Linked DNA regions of Homo sapiens: region 2 is linked to region 1. Evidence: fine-mapped expression QTL. Tissue or cell type: monocytes after interferon gamma. Region 1 holds a variant in brackets; the other region holds the start of a gene. All regions are shown on one strand. Distances are from middle to middle.

Region 1 (8,188 bases):
TATAAGCCATAGCTTATTTAAAAATGGTTTCATACAAAGTTAATTATACTTAATTATAGGAGCATTTAACACTTAATTTCTTACATTTTCTCCCAACAATTTATAGACGTGTGTTCACATTTAGAAATTCTTTCTTTTTATTTTTGAGACTAGAGTTTCCCTCTGTTGCCCAGGCTGGAGTACGATGGCACGATCTCAGCTCACTGCAACCTCCGCCTCCCAGGCTCAAGTGATTCTCGTGCCTCAGCTTCCCAGGTAGCTGGGATTACAGGCATGTGCCATCATGCCCAGCTAATTTTTGTATTTTTAGTAGAGACAGGGTTCCACCATGTTGGCCAGGCTGGTCTTGAACTCTTGACCTCAAGTGATCCCCCTGCCTTGGCTTCCCAAAGTGCTGGGATTACAGGCATGAGCCAGTGCACCCGGCTTCTTTATTTTTAGAGATGGTGGATCTTGCTTTGTAGCCAAGGCTCAAACTCCTCAGCTCATGTGACTCTCCTGCCTTGGCCTCCGAAAGTGCTGGGATAATAGGCATGAGCCACTGCATCCAGCCCACATTTAGAAATTCTTATTTCAATTAACTGAAATGCTCAGGAAGGCATGTATTTTAATATTTTACTTTTAAAAAATATTTTTGAAAATTACTGTGAAATTAAAGGCAACATGAGGGATCTACAATATATTAGCAAACAGAGGTTTGTTTGTTTGTTTATTATCTTTTCTGCTTCCACCTAGCAGTGTGCTGGACTTGGCTTGCAGCAGCTTGTAGGAGTTCTCTATTATTTCATACAAAGACTTGTACATGAATGTTCATATGAGCTTTATTCCAAAAACTGGAAATGACTCCAATGTCCATCAACAAGTAAATGGATAAACAAACTGGTACATCCACACAAAGAAATTACTCAGCAATGAAAAGAATGAAGTACAAATGAATCCTGAAAATTTTTAGGAATTTTGTGGGCTGGCTATCAAACACAACTAGCATTAAAAACTAAACTAAATTATTTAAATTTATAGTAAAATACATTTTATTAAAAACAAAGGTAAAAACAATCAAATTTGTCAATTTAAAATTATTTTACTATTATCTGTGCTCTTGAGTTTACCTATGTCTGTTGTATCTGTATGGTGCAAACATTAAGTACTGGTATGCTGCTGACAATCTTTACTCCATCTTCAGTAACCTTAGGTTGGTAGTTTGAAGTCAGCCATGGTGGGAGTATTTATAAAAGAGATACAAGCCAATGTTACAAATCAAGCTCTCCCTCATATCCCTCTTGGAAAGCTGGCTGTTAACATTTACCAACACACCACTGTGTCAACCCCAAGCATTAACTATGTGTCAGGAACTGCAATAAAATGAAGTATTTCTGGTCTTTCGAAATTTGAGGATAAAGATCCTCCTAATGTTATAGTATGAAAAGACACTCTAAAGAATATAAACAGATCCTTAAGAAAACAAATAATAAACAACATATATTAATGTTATTTAATGTATGACTTGAAAAAACCCTTTGTTATAAGAGAAATAGTTTTTAAAACTTTTAAAATATTAACTTCTTGGCTGGGTGCAGTGGCACATCTCCAATCCCAGTACTTTCAGAGGCCCTAGGCAGGTGGATCGCTTGAGCCCAGAAGTTCTAGACTAGCCTGGGCAACATGGTGAAACCCTGTCTCTACCAAAAAAATACAAAAATTAGCCAGGCACAGTAGTGCGTAGCTACAGTTCCAGCTACTTGGGAGGCTGAGGAGGGAGGAGTCCTTGACCCTGGGAGGCAGAGGTTGCAATGAACTGTGATCATGCCACTGCACTCCAGTCTGGGCGATAAAGCCAGACCCTGTCTCAGAAAAAAAAAAAAAAAAAAAGAAAGAAACAAAGAAAAAAACGGAAAAACTTCTTATGTTGACACTCAGGAATATTAAATAAATAAATAAAAGGAACATTAGCAAAGTAGTACCTCCGGTTTAAATTGTTTTATGACTCGCATTTCAAAAGTACAGAAAAATAAAATTAGATCTTGACATCAGAAGATGATTAAAAATGCTATGTAAAATGCATACATATATATATATATATATATATATACGTAGTTTAAATGACATAAGGCTAAGAAAAAGAAGCAATATGAGCCTGATTTTCTAAGTGTAAACAAAGTTAAATTTAACAGAGGAGTGATTTCTCATTAAACACAGAGGTAAAAACCAAATCTATCTTAAAAATGATTAGTAAAAAACTTAAAATGTCACCAAAGTTTGCCAAACCTGTTTTACCAGTTGATATTCTCAGAAATCAAAGCTCTGTCTGTCTAGTCTGCATTTATACTTAGTCTGGGCATTTAATCTCCCTTTTGTTCTCAGTTTTGCCATACACTGTAAGTTGTTTTTTATGGCCTTAACATTCAGTTAGTTTCATAAATTGTGAAATCATTTTGTACTAGCAAACAGCTTATTTTAAAACTGCTTAGAAAAATAAAAGAGTTACAAACAATTAAAATGAATACTGTGATTCTTCATATGGGTTTCTTTAAGTTATTTACCTCTTGTGAAAGCTGTGTTACTTGGTCCTTTCGATGTTCCAGATCTTTTAAAATCAGCGAGTTTTGTTTTTCTAATTGAAGCACTCTTCTTGCCAAGTGAACACTAGGCAAATGAAATAAGAAAATTAATGCTTAAAAGTGAAATACTGCCCAAAATATTCAAAATGTGTTTGTGTACTTGAAAATAGACATCATTTCCTAATTATACTTAAATATTAACAGAAAAAATATAGAGTCAAATAATATTTTCAGGCACCAGTAGTGGAAGACCAATACCCCACAACTCAGAATTATGAGAGTAACAACATTAAAACATAACCGTGATAGACTGATTACTGCAGTAACGGTTTTTAGCCCTTGCTATAAAAGTGGAGAGGTAACATTATAACACTTGCTTGAAAAGACCACAATACAGCAATTTACAGCTTGTCTCCACTTTTATAAATATTTTCCAATTACAAATCAGAAAATTAGTTGAAATATTACAAACAATAATTAGCTTATCACTTTGAGAAGTATCAGAGTTTACTTTAAACAACATAATGCATGTTATAATATAAAACAAAAATGAGGTTTTTAATTGAAAGTGGAGATGAAAAAGATATATAAAACTTAGAGAATGTCTATAGTAAAGGCTAAGCTTCTG[T/C]ACTAAAAGAAAAAAATCACTCCCTCTGATGCTCTGCATTACCATAACTTATTGCACTGACCTTTAGTATTTAAAATTACATATGAAACATCTCAATTCTACTTTTAAGAAACAATTTTAAGAATAAAATCTATTCCTTCTAACTATGGTGGGAGGAAGTGGTATATTTCTTTAAAGAACTGCTAATAATTTTGAGAAGACATATTGCTCCAAAGAACCTCTCTGCATTTCCAGTAACTTAACATTTTCATATTTATCATATTTTCATATTTTATACTAGTTAACCTATTAATCTGTGAATTGCAGAATCCATGGAATCCTAGATGGAATGTTTTATAATGACAAAAAGTAAGATAACTGTGCTTTAAATAAAATCATAGGGCAGAAAAAATTCTATTGTATTTTAATATTTCCCAATATCAGATAAAGAAATGCAGACAACATTCTAAAAAATAATGTTAAGGCCAGGCGCGGTGGCTCATGCCTGCAACCCCAGCACTCTGGGAGGCTGAGGCAGGAGGATCACTTGAGGCCAGGAATTCAAGACCAGTATGGGCAACAGGGTGAGACCCTGCCTCTGCAAAAAATACAAAAATTAGCTGGGCATGATGGTGCATGCCTGTGGTTCCAGCTACTTGGGAGGCTGAGATGGGGGGATCACGTGAGCCCAGGAGTTCGAGGTTACAGTGAGCTAGGATTGTGCCACTGCAATCCAGCCTGGGGTGACACAGAGACCCTGTCTCTAAAAATAATAATAATAATAAATAGTGTTAAATATCATTCTATATATCTATTTCTAAGAACTCATACCAAATAAAAAAGATGAGTTCTGGCAAAAGTTTATAAAGTGATTTGAGTTGCTTGTTTAGATCTAAAATTCTTTCAACTGGCATTAGAGATGGAAAAAGCATACAGTCCTCATTTTTTGACAACCACTTTTTTTTTAAACTTTACTGACATACAATTTTACTGATATGCAACTTAAATATCATAAAGTCCACCAATTTAAAGTGTACAATTCAATGATTTTTAGTATATTTAGAGTTGTGCCACTATCACTATAATCTAATTTTAGAGCATTTTCATTATCTCAAGAAGAATTTCTGTGTCCATTACCAGTCACTCTCCATCCTCCCCACATTCCAACTTCCTCCTTTGCTCCTCAAATTCAACCTTAGGGAACCATTAATCTTTCTCTCTTTATAAATTTTTAAGGAGTTTACAGTTTATGACTATATTGTTCTTCATTTCCCAATAAAAATATACTAAGTTCTCTCTAATTTGACCCTAAAATAACAAGATTTCTACAAATAAAATAAGCCTTAATGTGAATTTTGCATTTAAAATCCGTTGATTCCATTATACGTTTGCAAGCATCAGTTTATCATTAGCTCTATTTTTATTAGGTTAATTAAAAAATCTTGGAGCTATCTTTATTCACATTTTTATTCTTGCTTTCTTACTCTTCATACATGTTAGGTGTTAACTTTTTTTTATCTTTTTGTGTCCCACAGAACTTCACACTAGGGTCACTTAAACATGGTAATTTTTCAATAAATATGTTGAAGGTGTAGAACAAGTATGTGTATACTCAGTATAGAACAATAAACACAATCAAATGCAATTACACAGAACTAGAGTTACAAATGAATGAAATGGAAGACAAAGACATGCAAGAAAATGAGATGCAGAGGTCACATATTACCAACAATCTGAACAAGATAATGACTTGAAGACATCAAGTTTAATAATGTTAAATTGTTCATTTGGTTTGAGTGCTTTTATTTTGTTTGGGAATTCTATAATGTTCTTATACAGATAGGGTGATACCGCTTACCAATAAAAATATCATAAGTCATAAAACACTGACTCAAGAAATTCTTGCCGGGTGAGGTGGCTCACGCCTATAATCCCAGCACTTTGGGAGACTGAGGCAGGCAGATCACCTGAGGTCAGGAGTTCAAGACCAGCCTGGCCAACATGGTGAAACCCTGTCTCTACTAAAAATACAAAAATTAGCTGGGCGTGGTGGCAGGCGCCTGTAATCCCAGCAACTGAGGAGGCTGAGGCAGGAGAATCGCTTGAACCTGGGAGGCGGAGGTTGCAATGAGCTGAGATGGTGCCATCACACTCCAGCCTGGGGGACAAGAGCAAGACTTCATCTCAAAAAAAAGAAATTCTTGGTATGCTAGTGCTTAAGCCTTAACACCAGGACTACTTTCTTCAAAAAGGAATTTCCCTGATTTTGACTGGGAGATTCCAAGTAAGGAAAATCAACTCTAAATAGAAGGAAAGTATCTAAGGTATCTTCAAATTGCTTACAAATATACTCTACAGTGCTTTGATTACTAGTTTATAGTACAATTTTACTGAGAAAAACTTTCTGAGAATTGATGGTGACGGGAAGGACCGTGAGTATTAGTATGACTGTTGATGTCATTTATGATGCATAATGATAATAATGTAGAAGACAACATGGTACAATTGGTCTCCAGTATATATGGGGTTCACATTTTAAAAACTCACCTCTAAGTCAGTTGTAAGAACAGTAAAACACATTTCCTCATATATATATGTATATATATATATATATATGTATATATATGTATATATATGTATATATATGTGTGTGTATATATATATGTATATATATATATATGTGTATATATATATATACACACATATATTAGAAATGGTATTAAAGTTCTCAGTTGCCCTAAAAGACCCATTTAGCCCACTAATGTAGTACAAACACACATACACAGAAAAGAACAAAAGATAATATAAAATCTTTCATTAAAAGATTATACTCAGATTTATTAAGATTGTATTATTAAGGATATAAGAGATTATATTAAGATTTAATGAAAAGAAATATAAAGATATATTTAAGCAAAAGAACACAGCAGAAACAAGAAATATAACTGTTTTTCATCATTATAATACTTACAGTAAAACAAAAACAGTAAAAAAAAATTAGGCCAAGGCAGGCAGATCACTTGAGGCCAGGAGTTTGAGACCAGCCTGGCCAACATGGCAAAACCCCACCTCTACTAAAAACACGAAAATTATCTGGGTGTGGTGGCACACATCTTTTTTTTATTTTAATTTTTATTTTTGAGTTGGAGTCTTGCTCTGTCACCAGGCTGGAGTGCAGTGACGCGATCTCGGCTCACTGCAAGTTCCGCCTCCCGGGTTCGCGCCATTCTCCTGTCTCAGCCTCCTCAGTAGCTGGGACCACAGGTGCCCGCCACTAGGCCCGGCTAATTTTTTGTACTTTTAGTAGAGACAGGGTTTCACCATGTTAGCCAGATGGTCTCGATCTCCTGACCTCGTGATCCGCCCACCTCGGCCTCCCATAGTGCTGGGATTACAGGCGTGAGCCACCACGCCCGGACAGTGGCACACATCTTTAATCCCAGCTACTTGGAACGCTGAGGCACAACAATCTATTGAACCCGGGAGGCAGAGGTTGCAGTAAGCAGTGAGCCAAGATCGTGCCACTGCACTACAGCCTAGGCAACTGAGTGAGACTCTGTTTCAAAAAAAAAAAAAAAGGAAATTACTATTTTTTCTTGGTGATGAATATCAATGACTGCAGAAAAGCAGGGTGAATTAGAAGAAACACACTCATTAATTCATTCGAAAAATATTCATGAACACTTCCTTTGAAGAAACATGTATTAAAAACCTATAATCTGCATAGGCACTGAGAATACATAATATCTACTGGGAAGATCTAATAGTCTACTGAGGAAGACAGGCAAATTTAAAAATTACTGTAGTATGCTAAATGCTAAGAAAAGGCATACCACTAAGGAATAAAAACTATACTAACTAATCTGGTGAAGAAGCAGAGAAACAGCATTTTAGGTAGAGGGAAATGCCTATGTAGAGGATGAAGTGCTAGGGAAAATTCTAAGTAGTAGAGTATAGATCAATAATATATGGTGCATGGTGAGGGTTGAAGCTAGAGAGATATAGGCAGAGATATTTTATGAAAAGCCTTGTATGTTTGGATTTTATCCTGAAGTTGGTTAGACATAACACGATCTGGCCCGCACTTTAGAAAGAGTGCTCTATCAGTAGTGTGCAGGATGGCCTGCAGAAGGAAGAAGACTACAGTCATTTAGAAGGTTATGATCATAATCTAGACCAGTGGTCTTTAAAAGTAGTTATGTGCAAAATTATTTCTTGAACTGTGGGAACTTTTACTTACATTTATTTTAATGTTAAATTATCTTAAGTTTTCATTTGCTGTGTAGGTTTTATATCATTATGTGCATACTATTCATATGATAGCACATGCGTACATAATCTATAAATAAATATGAATACATATGCATATATTGCTGAGTGTGTACTCAAATTTTTTCCCAATAAAAATTCGTATCAAAAAGTTTGGAGACCACTGGTCTAGGTCAGCTTTGTCCAATGGAAATATAATGCAAGCCACATATGCAATTTAAAATTTTCTAGTAGCCACATTAATAAACAGTACAAAGCCCTTACCTCATATGATACCAAAAAATTAATTAGAATGGATCAAAGACCTAAATACAGAAGCTAAAACTATAAACTTTTAGAAGAAAACATATGAGTAAATCCTCACAAAATTAGATTTAGCAAAAGATTCTCAGGGCAGCAAAAGCATAAGTAACAAAAAAAATTGGATAAACTGGACTGCATCAAAATTTTAAAATTCTGGGCTTCAAAATGCACCATTAAGAAAGTAAAAAGATTTTAACCATTTCAGTTTTGTCATGAAAAAGAAAAACAGGGCCGGGTGCGGTGGCTCATGCCTATAATCCCAGCACTTTGGGAGGCTGAGGTGGGCAGATCACTTGAGGTCAGGAGTTCGAGACCAGCCTGGCCAACATGGTGAAACCCCGTCTCTCCTAAAAATACAAAAATTAGCTGGGTGTGGTGGCAGGCGCCTGTAATCCCAGCTACTTAGGAGGCTGAGGCAGGAGAATCACTTGAACCCGGGAGGCGGAGCTTG
Region 2 (8,188 bases), 200 kb after region 1:
GTAGAGATGGGGTTTCACTATGTTGGCCAGCCTGGTCTTGAACTCATGACCTCAAGTGATCTGCCCGCCTCAGCCTCCCAAAATGCTGGGATTACAGGTGTGAGCCACCACACCTGGCCTCAAAGGTATTATTTAAATTTAAGTTAAAATCCTTTCATGCTTCATCCTCATTCTATTCCCTTCCTATTAACACTCTGGGTGGACATTAATTTTATGATTGAATGGTCATCATGTTACCAAGCAAAGAGAAGATGGAGGAGAAAAGCCAGTAAGTATTTACCAGAATATCTCAATATGTGTGCAACGTTGTGTGACTGAATTCTTAAGTCAAAGGGAAAAGGATTATCCTTTGTTTTGGACTAACAACATGTCTACCTTAGGACAGCAAATTAAAATCTGGTCATACCATGTATTTGATTTTTTTCAAATATTAAAAAATCAGACTATAAAACATATAAACAAGAGTCCCTAAAACTACAAAAGAATAATAGGACCTTACACTTTGTAATAAAAAACTAAATCTGCAGTACATTAGTGCCTTGAAACCTAAACAACACATCAACAAATAAGACTGCACTGGGTGATATGTAGAATTCTAGAAAATGTAATTCAGATTCCAAGTGAATTGTTACAGTTGGATGATGTCTAAAAAACCGCTCTGTTGCTAATGGATACCCTTCCATTCAGTGCATACGTAACTCTTTGAGGGGGTTTTAGGTTTCCCCAAACATAGATAACAATGAAACAGCATTTTGCTTTACCCCAAATCATCAAAAAGACAAACTGAAACAAGTTAATGGCAGAAGCCACAACCATGTAGAAAAGTGCAAATTTCAAAATGTTCTTCTCTTAACTGAGTGCTAGGGGTACAGAGCTGTCACCTCAGTAGCAGAGGGAAAAGGTTACTTGTAAAAGAAAAAGGTATCTACTCAGGTCTGGAACTGTTGGCAAGAAAATCTTTCTGAATGTAGTTCTTTGAACTCATTCATTTAGATAGAAAAAATCTGCATCAAAATTTTTTCTCCCTGATACCTTTACATAGAAAAATACTCAACATTTAGAATTTCCTACCTCTCTTCACTTGAGAGTGTTATTAGACTTAGGTGCAAGAAAGGAAAACTTACCGAGAATGACTTAAGTATAAAGCTTGACGATGAATATCTTCTGGGTCTATTTCTACAGGATTTATTACAGCTAGTTGATCAATAGACCATCTAAATTTCCCTGGAGTCTTAACAAAAGAAAGTGAGCTTATGAGTAAAGGCAAACTAAAATAGTTCATCAAAATGCTAACCTATGTGAGAAATAATATGAATGGTTATAATATGAAAATATTTTAAAGCTTGTATTTTAAAATTTGACTTTACCATGAAATTAAATGGCAAAGGGTAATCATATCACATTCGATCAACTGACTTAATTGTATCTCTCTCTCTCTTTGTTTAAGACAGAGTCTCGTTCTGTCACCGAGGCTGGAGTGCACTGGTGTAATCTCAGCTCACTGCAACCTCCACCTCCCCGGTTCAAGCGATTCTCCTGCCTCAGCCTCCTGAGTAGCTGGGATTACAGGCACCCGCCACCACACCCAGCTAATTTTTGTATTTTTTTTTTTTTTTTTTTTTTAGTAGAGATGGGGTTTCACCATGTTGGCCAGGCTGGTCTCAAACTCCTGACTTCAAGTCATCAGCCCACCTTGGCAGTGCTGGGATTACAGGCATGAGCCACAGCGCCCAGCCTGTATCTCTTTTAAAATATCAGAATCTTTCACCTGGGTTGGAATTACGTAATACGAGAAAAATCACAACAGAGTAATAAAGATATAAAACTTTCACAATTAACACTCATCAGTGTGATAAACTAAGCCCATGTAAAAGTAAAAATCTCTCACAGTTAACAAACGTCTTTACTTTCACTAAGAAGGAACTGAAATTAAAGTCCTTAGTCACTTTGGAGGTGGCTGCAAAAGCTCACAACATAGTTGATCCTTAAAATAATTATGAATGGCAACCAGTGCTGCCTTTCTGTACTCAACCATGCAACTGAATTAAAGGTTTATCCAAATCCTAATCTGTAATTAGAAATATATTCTAGGCAAATTCAGTCCTAAAAACGCAAGATGCCATACATTCCAACTTTGAGGATTAAGCTGCCGTCAATCTATTATTTATTTTTAGTAAGACCAAGAGATAAATTTTAATGATTCAATTAAAAATCATAAGGTCAGATTGATGAAATGACTCAATATAAACTGCTCGACCTTCCACTAGTACATACTTGCTCATTGTAAAACCTGTATGAAAGTGTAGCAGAAACAGCCACCCTATTTGCAGTTTTTCTAAGTAACTTGGTAGGTTGAAAGATCCAAGGTCAAAAGAACTTATCCAGTGTAGCAAATAACAGTAAAATAAGATAAAGTGGCCCGGGCATGGTGGCTCATGCCTGTAATCCCAGCACTTTGGGAGGCTGAAGTGGGTGCATCACATGAGGTCAGGAGTTCGAGATCAGCCTGGCCAACATGGTGAAATCCCATCTCTACCAAAAAAAAAAAAAAGATAAAGTGATGAAGCCTTTTCTAATATCCTGAAGAACACTTTTCCTTCATATTACTATTGTCCTAAGTACTAATCATATCACCTATCACACTGCCTTGATATTACTCATCTAGTTCTGTTTAACACATTAAAATAGGGGTTAGTTTCTTTTTATAATAGATTGCAAGCTAAGAATTATTTTGACAGTTTCAAATGGTTGGGAAAACAAACAAAAAAATATCTTGTGACATGTGAAAATTATATGAAATTCAAATGTGTCCATAAATAAAGCTGTATTGGAACAGAGTAACATTTATCTCTTTACACATTGCCTATGGCTGCTTTTGTGATACAAGACAGAAGTGAGTAGTTGTGACAGAGACCAAATGACCTGTAAAGCTTAAATATTTACTGTCTGGCCCCTAACAGAAAGTTTGTGACCCATACATCGGAGTATAACCTCCTTAAGGATTTGTGCCTAATGATCCTAACTTGTTCACAGTGTAATCCCTGCTTAGCACTGTATCTGACACATAGCAACACTCAAATAATGTTTGCCAAATAAGTGAGAACAGAATATTAGATGATGCAGCTTCTTCTCTAATGTATTAGTAGCTATATCGTCAACCACAGAATGTAGCTACACCCACAACTGCAGGAAGCTAACGTATGTTCTTGAACTTAAAAAAAAAAAAATCTTCTAGCTAACTTATTAACCTAACCACTAGATTATAATGAACACTACAATTTAAAAAAGTATATTGCAGCTATATATGCTCCATAATGTATTTCCTCCTTACCTTGTAAAGACAGATGTTTACATTTAAAATTATTTGTAATTACTTACATTTAAAATTAGTTGTAAACACTAGTCAGGAATAACTTACTGGTAATTTTGTTGATTTAAAAACAGAAGGACTGGCGAGAGTTTGTTCATGGAGATTAGAATAATCACTAGGACTTTCAAAAGGATTTAAAACAGGGATCCTTCCTGGAGTTTCTGGTGTTATTTGCATCTTTGATTCCTTGACATCTCCCATAGCACAGAGAGAAAACTAAAAAGAAATCAAGAGTATGCATGTTAAAATTACAAAGTCCCATAGATATTAATTTTAACTATTAAAATGTACTCGACAAATGTGTCACAAAAAACAACTCAAAACCTCACACTCTTGGGGCTATGATACAGCTTACAAAAAAAGTATCACATATAAATGTTCTCAACTGATCCTCGAAACAACCTTGAAAGCTATAGCAGTAACTTACTAGTGATATTATTTTGCGAAAGTATTAAGCTCAGAGAAGTGAAGTGGCTTATACGCAGCAATCAAATATGAATGAATTCAGATCTGCCTCTGAGGAAACTAAAGGTTACAACAGGCCCAGATCTCTTCTCAACTAAAGGACTTATAGCTACAATTTTTTTTAAATTCATCATCTCATGTCTCAACACTATGAACATTCTTCGGATACCCTATCCAACTACAGTTGCTATTAAACAATTCTTTGTAGCAAGCAGGTAAGAGATGAGGAAGCTTGTGCCTTTCTTGCACATGAGTCCTAGCCAGAGAAGTATGATTGACAGGGGCTAGGAAATTAACTGCCTGGGGTCCCCTTTCCTCCAAAAATCCTCCTTTCGCCAAGACCTCCCCTCCACCCCTCCCGGGATAGAAAGGGAGACTGCATTACTTGCAATCAAAGGAGGCTACAGAGGCTACACCTTGGCGGGGTGGGGTGGAAAAGAGTCTACTTCTGGAAGGTTGAGATGCAGCCGGCTTCCCTGGATGGAGTGCGAAGGAGGCGTCGCCCCCAACCCTACGTGGCCACTCTTTCTGGTGCCCCTCTCTTCCACACCTACTCCCTGACTGCTCCCATTCACCAGGGGCGAGCGGGCAGGCAAGTCAGGAGCTGGGAAAAGAAACCTCTCCATTCAGACAGGAGGAAAGGCCAGGGACCACAAAGAGCGTACCTACCGGTGCGTACAAAACGAAGCCCCCAGTACCGACTCCAGGGAGCTCCGGGGGCCAGGCCAGCTTCCACGACAGGCATAGACTCTTTAACTCCCCGCTTCCGCGCTGTCTTGGGCCAACCAGGGCACGGGGCTTGTGAGCGACTAGCCAATCGTGTCGTCCCGCCATCCGCGAACCAGCCAATCGCACGGAGGCCGCGTAGGAAATTCGAATGGCAACTCCTCGCTCCACGTTCCGCGCAGAGGAACGTGGCTCCAAATTCAAATCAACGCAGCCTCACGCCGGCGGCGAGCGCGAGGGGCGGAGCCTGCCCGGCGTGGGCCGAGACGCGCTGTGTGATTGCCTCGGAGAGAGGAAGGCGCTCCAGTTCCGGGTCAGGCCCTTCTCCCGCCTCCCTCGGCCTTAGCCATGGCGAGTAGCAGCGGTGCTGGGGCGGCGGCGGCGGCCGCGGCGGCGAATCTGAATGCGGTGCGGGAGACCATGGACGGTGAGTTTCCGTTGCGCTCCCTTTACCTTGCGTGCCTTCCCAGAGCCAAGGCCCCCAGGCGGGAATGAGCCTGGGGAGGACTTCAGGTCCCCTTAGTGCCCCAAACGGCATCTTCCAAGATCTTTGGTAGGGACCTGCCAGGGCCGCAGGGCTGATGGCCCTATCCCTTGAGAGTTGTCTCCGCCGCTGCGTAGTTTGTCGCGCGCGCTAGGCGTTGCGGCCCCTAGTCAGCCGGTTGCGCACCGCGTCCCTCTCGCGCGAATGCCGCGCCCCCTCTATCCCGCATCCCAGGTCCGCCCTACCCGCCCGATCTCCTGCGGTGACAGCGTCACGCCCACCCCACCCAGTACACCCGTTCCCTCCTGCGTGCCGCGTCCCACCCGATTCCCGCCCGGGGCGCTTCGGGGGTCCCCAAGGTTGGGATCCCGGCGGGGACAGGGGCCAGGTGTTTGGTCACCGCTATGCCTCCTGTTCTTCGCACTTAAGTAGGCACCTTTAATATCCGGCGAATGAACAAGTTCCCCTTTGGTCATAATTATCCTAGTTTCCTCTTGAAGCGGGTGACACCAGTGCCCAAGTGCTATGGTGTCGCCTGTTTTCGGCCCCGGAGGCACGTGTGTGTGAAGCCTACACAAGTGTTGCAGAACACGAAATTTGTGTCTTGCGGTTACCCTCTGTCTACCCTCTAATGTCGGTTCTGCCACTTTATGCCCCTGTGGTGAGCTTGGACTAGATACTTAAACATCATTGAGCCTGTTTAGTTTTTTTTTTTTTTTTTTCTGTAAAATAAAACCCTACCTCCAGGAGTTGTGAATATTTAAATAAGACAACCATGTAAAAACATATCAAAGATGATCAATTATTTTTATATTATTTCAGATGGCCTCTCTCTTGTAGTCTTCTTTCTTTGTCTCCTTTTTACTCACATCCACCTGTATTATGAGTGTTTGATCGATGTTGTTATTTGCAGTGGGCCTAGACGTTTTCCAGGGTCTACTCACGTCAGCTTCCGTCTCTGTTAAAAGATAACCCTATGAAATTCTCACTGCTGTATCTCTCTCTCCTTCACCGTAGGCTCTTTTTTTCTTTTTTGAGACACAGTCTTGCTGTAGTTGCCCAGGGTGGAGTGCAATGGCGCAACCTCGGCTCACTGCAACCTCCGCCTCCCGGGTTCAGGCGATTCTCCTGCCTCAGCCTCTGGAGTAGCTGGGATTACAGGTGCCCGCCAGAACACCCGGCTAATTTTTTGTATTTTTAGTAGAGACGGAGTTTCCCCATGTTGGCCAGGTTGGTCTCGAACTCCTGACTTCAGGTGATCCACATGCCTCGGCCTCCCAAAATGCTAGGATTACAGGCGTGAGCCACCATGCCCGGCCTCATTTTCTTATGTAGCACTTGCAGAGGGGCTGCTGGCTTTTTCTGCACTGGTCCTGGTTTTCTTTTCAAAGAATTACACTTTTAGAGCCTTTGCATCTAATTTTTCACTTGTTCAGTATCTACCTTGCTGTTTTTCTGAGAATGTTACTCTTAATATTCAGCTTATTTTTCTATCCTTTTCGATGTATCAACACTTAATAGTTTTATTTTGTAAGTGGATTTATGTATGAATATATATATGTGTGTGTATATAAATATAAATTTACTGTCTTGTATATTTCCTTGGAAAAAGGTAGAGTATAAGACCTCACTTCTAGCCTATTTTCTTAGGTTAGCTGTACTTAGGTTCCTTATGTATATGGCCACAGGATCCCATTTGAACAGAAAACTCACATTTTCTCTGGTGGAATCACTGATGTACAATTGAGAACTGATGGTTTGTGTTGGCTGCATCATCAAGATCTCTTCTGAGAAAACTTGGTGTGAAATGAAGATTATAAAGAGAGTAAGAACACAAAAAAGTGAAGTAAAACAAAAAATGAAGGAGAGGGGATGTGGTGTTACACAGTATTTAAATCAACCCGTGAGATCAAAAATAAAATTTTCAAAACTTTTTGAATACCATTTCTCCCCTCAATGGTAGCATTTGTGAACCTCCCTTTAAGTCATGTGAATTGCAGAACTCTTGGCTACATTTGCATTTTGATCATGAAATGAAAGGATTTTGTTAAAGACATGGAAGGAAGCAGGCTAACTTTCTATTAATAAATTATCTGTGCACCTCACTCTGAAAAGAACTATCTCTGCCAATTTAGAATAAGGTCTGCATGAGATCTCTGCTTTCATCCTTATATCCCTAAAATTCTACACGCTTAAAATAGTCGTGCCTTTTCAACAACACCCCCCTCGCAACCCACTGTGTATGGTTGCCTCTTTTGCTTTTCAACTTTTTGGTATGTTAGGTACTCTCTATTGATTGCTTTTTATACCTTAATTTTTATTTTCCTCTAAAATCGTCCTGTGCATCTGAATTTTAATTTTGATAATTATTCCTTATGAGAGGCTTTATCATAGCACTATTTTTTTTTTTTTTTTGAGACCGAGTCTGGCTGGAGTGCAGTGGCGCGACCTTGGCTCACTGCAACCTCCGCCTCCCAGGTTGAAGCTGGGGATGGGAACCAATTCTCCTGCCTTGGCCTCTGGAGTAACTAGGATTATAGGCGCCCGCCACCACGCCCAGCTAATTTTTGTATTTTTAGTAGAGACAGGGTTTCACCATGTTGGCCAGTCTGGTCTGGAACTCCTGACCTCAGGTGATCCACCCGCCTCAGCCTCCCAAAGTGCTGGGATTATAGGCGTGAGCCACTGTGCCCGGCCTGTAGCACCACTTTACATATATATATGTGTATATATATATATATATATATGTATATATATATATATATTTAGTAGTAAGTACGGGTGCCTGTAATCCCAGCTACTTGGGAGGCTGAGGCAGGAGAATCGCTTGAACCTGGGAGGCGAAGGTTGTCGTGAGCTGAGATTGCGCCACTGCACTGCAGACTGGGTGACAGAGCTAGACTCCATCTCAAAAAAAAAAAAAAAAACACGTTATAGAGAAAGGAGTTAAGAGAATCTATGGTATATAGATTCCATTTGACTAGCACTGCAAGGCAGTACCAGCGAAACAGTCCATGCTACCACCATCAATCCAGTTGCACATTTGAGAAAGAAATCTAGAAGTCAGTCTTGCTTTCTCACCTCCTCTGCCTCCTGTTCTTCACTAAGCCCTTTCAATTCTTGACTCATTTCAGGTTGGCTAA

Direction of the effects. Positions count from the first base shown, and alleles are read on the strand shown. Sizes are in standard deviations (SD) of each study's normalised expression.
For the expression in monocytes after interferon gamma of the gene that starts at base 4,589 in region 2, T is the high allele of the variant in region 1 and C is the other (large effect, 2.1 SD a copy in Fairfax 2014).

Evidence for each region. PIP is the estimated chance that this variant, and not a neighbour inherited with it, causes the effect.
Region 2: it holds the start of BORA, and the variant in region 1 is fine-mapped to the expression of BORA in monocytes after interferon gamma (Fairfax 2014, PIP 0.95). The same link has a PIP of 0.9 or more in B cells, NK cells, monocytes and monocytes after LPS.

Annotation. Positions count from the first base shown.
Region 1 is chr13:72,925,620-72,933,807 of GRCh38, reverse strand. It overlaps PIBF1 (progesterone immunomodulatory binding factor 1), which reads right to left. Exons shown (of 18, transcript NM_006346.4): 14 at 2,541-2,643. Among named protein-coding and RNA genes, the nearest start is that of KLF5, 130 kb to the left of the region's middle. The variant T/C (reference allele first, on the strand shown) is at 3,187.
Region 2 is chr13:72,724,324-72,732,511 of GRCh38, reverse strand. BORA (BORA aurora kinase A activator) reads right to left here and starts at 4,589. Exons shown (of 12, transcript NM_024808.5): 1 at 4,505-4,589; 2 at 3,419-3,586; 3 at 1,125-1,231. The coding sequence starts at 3,571. It overlaps MZT1 (mitotic spindle organizing protein 1), which reads left to right and starts at 4,883. Exons shown (of 3, transcript NM_001071775.3): 1 at 4,883-4,988. The coding sequence starts at 4,910. RefSeq lists enhancers at 4,308-4,357, 5,078-5,147 and silencers at 4,568-4,717, 5,241-5,422, 5,378-5,437.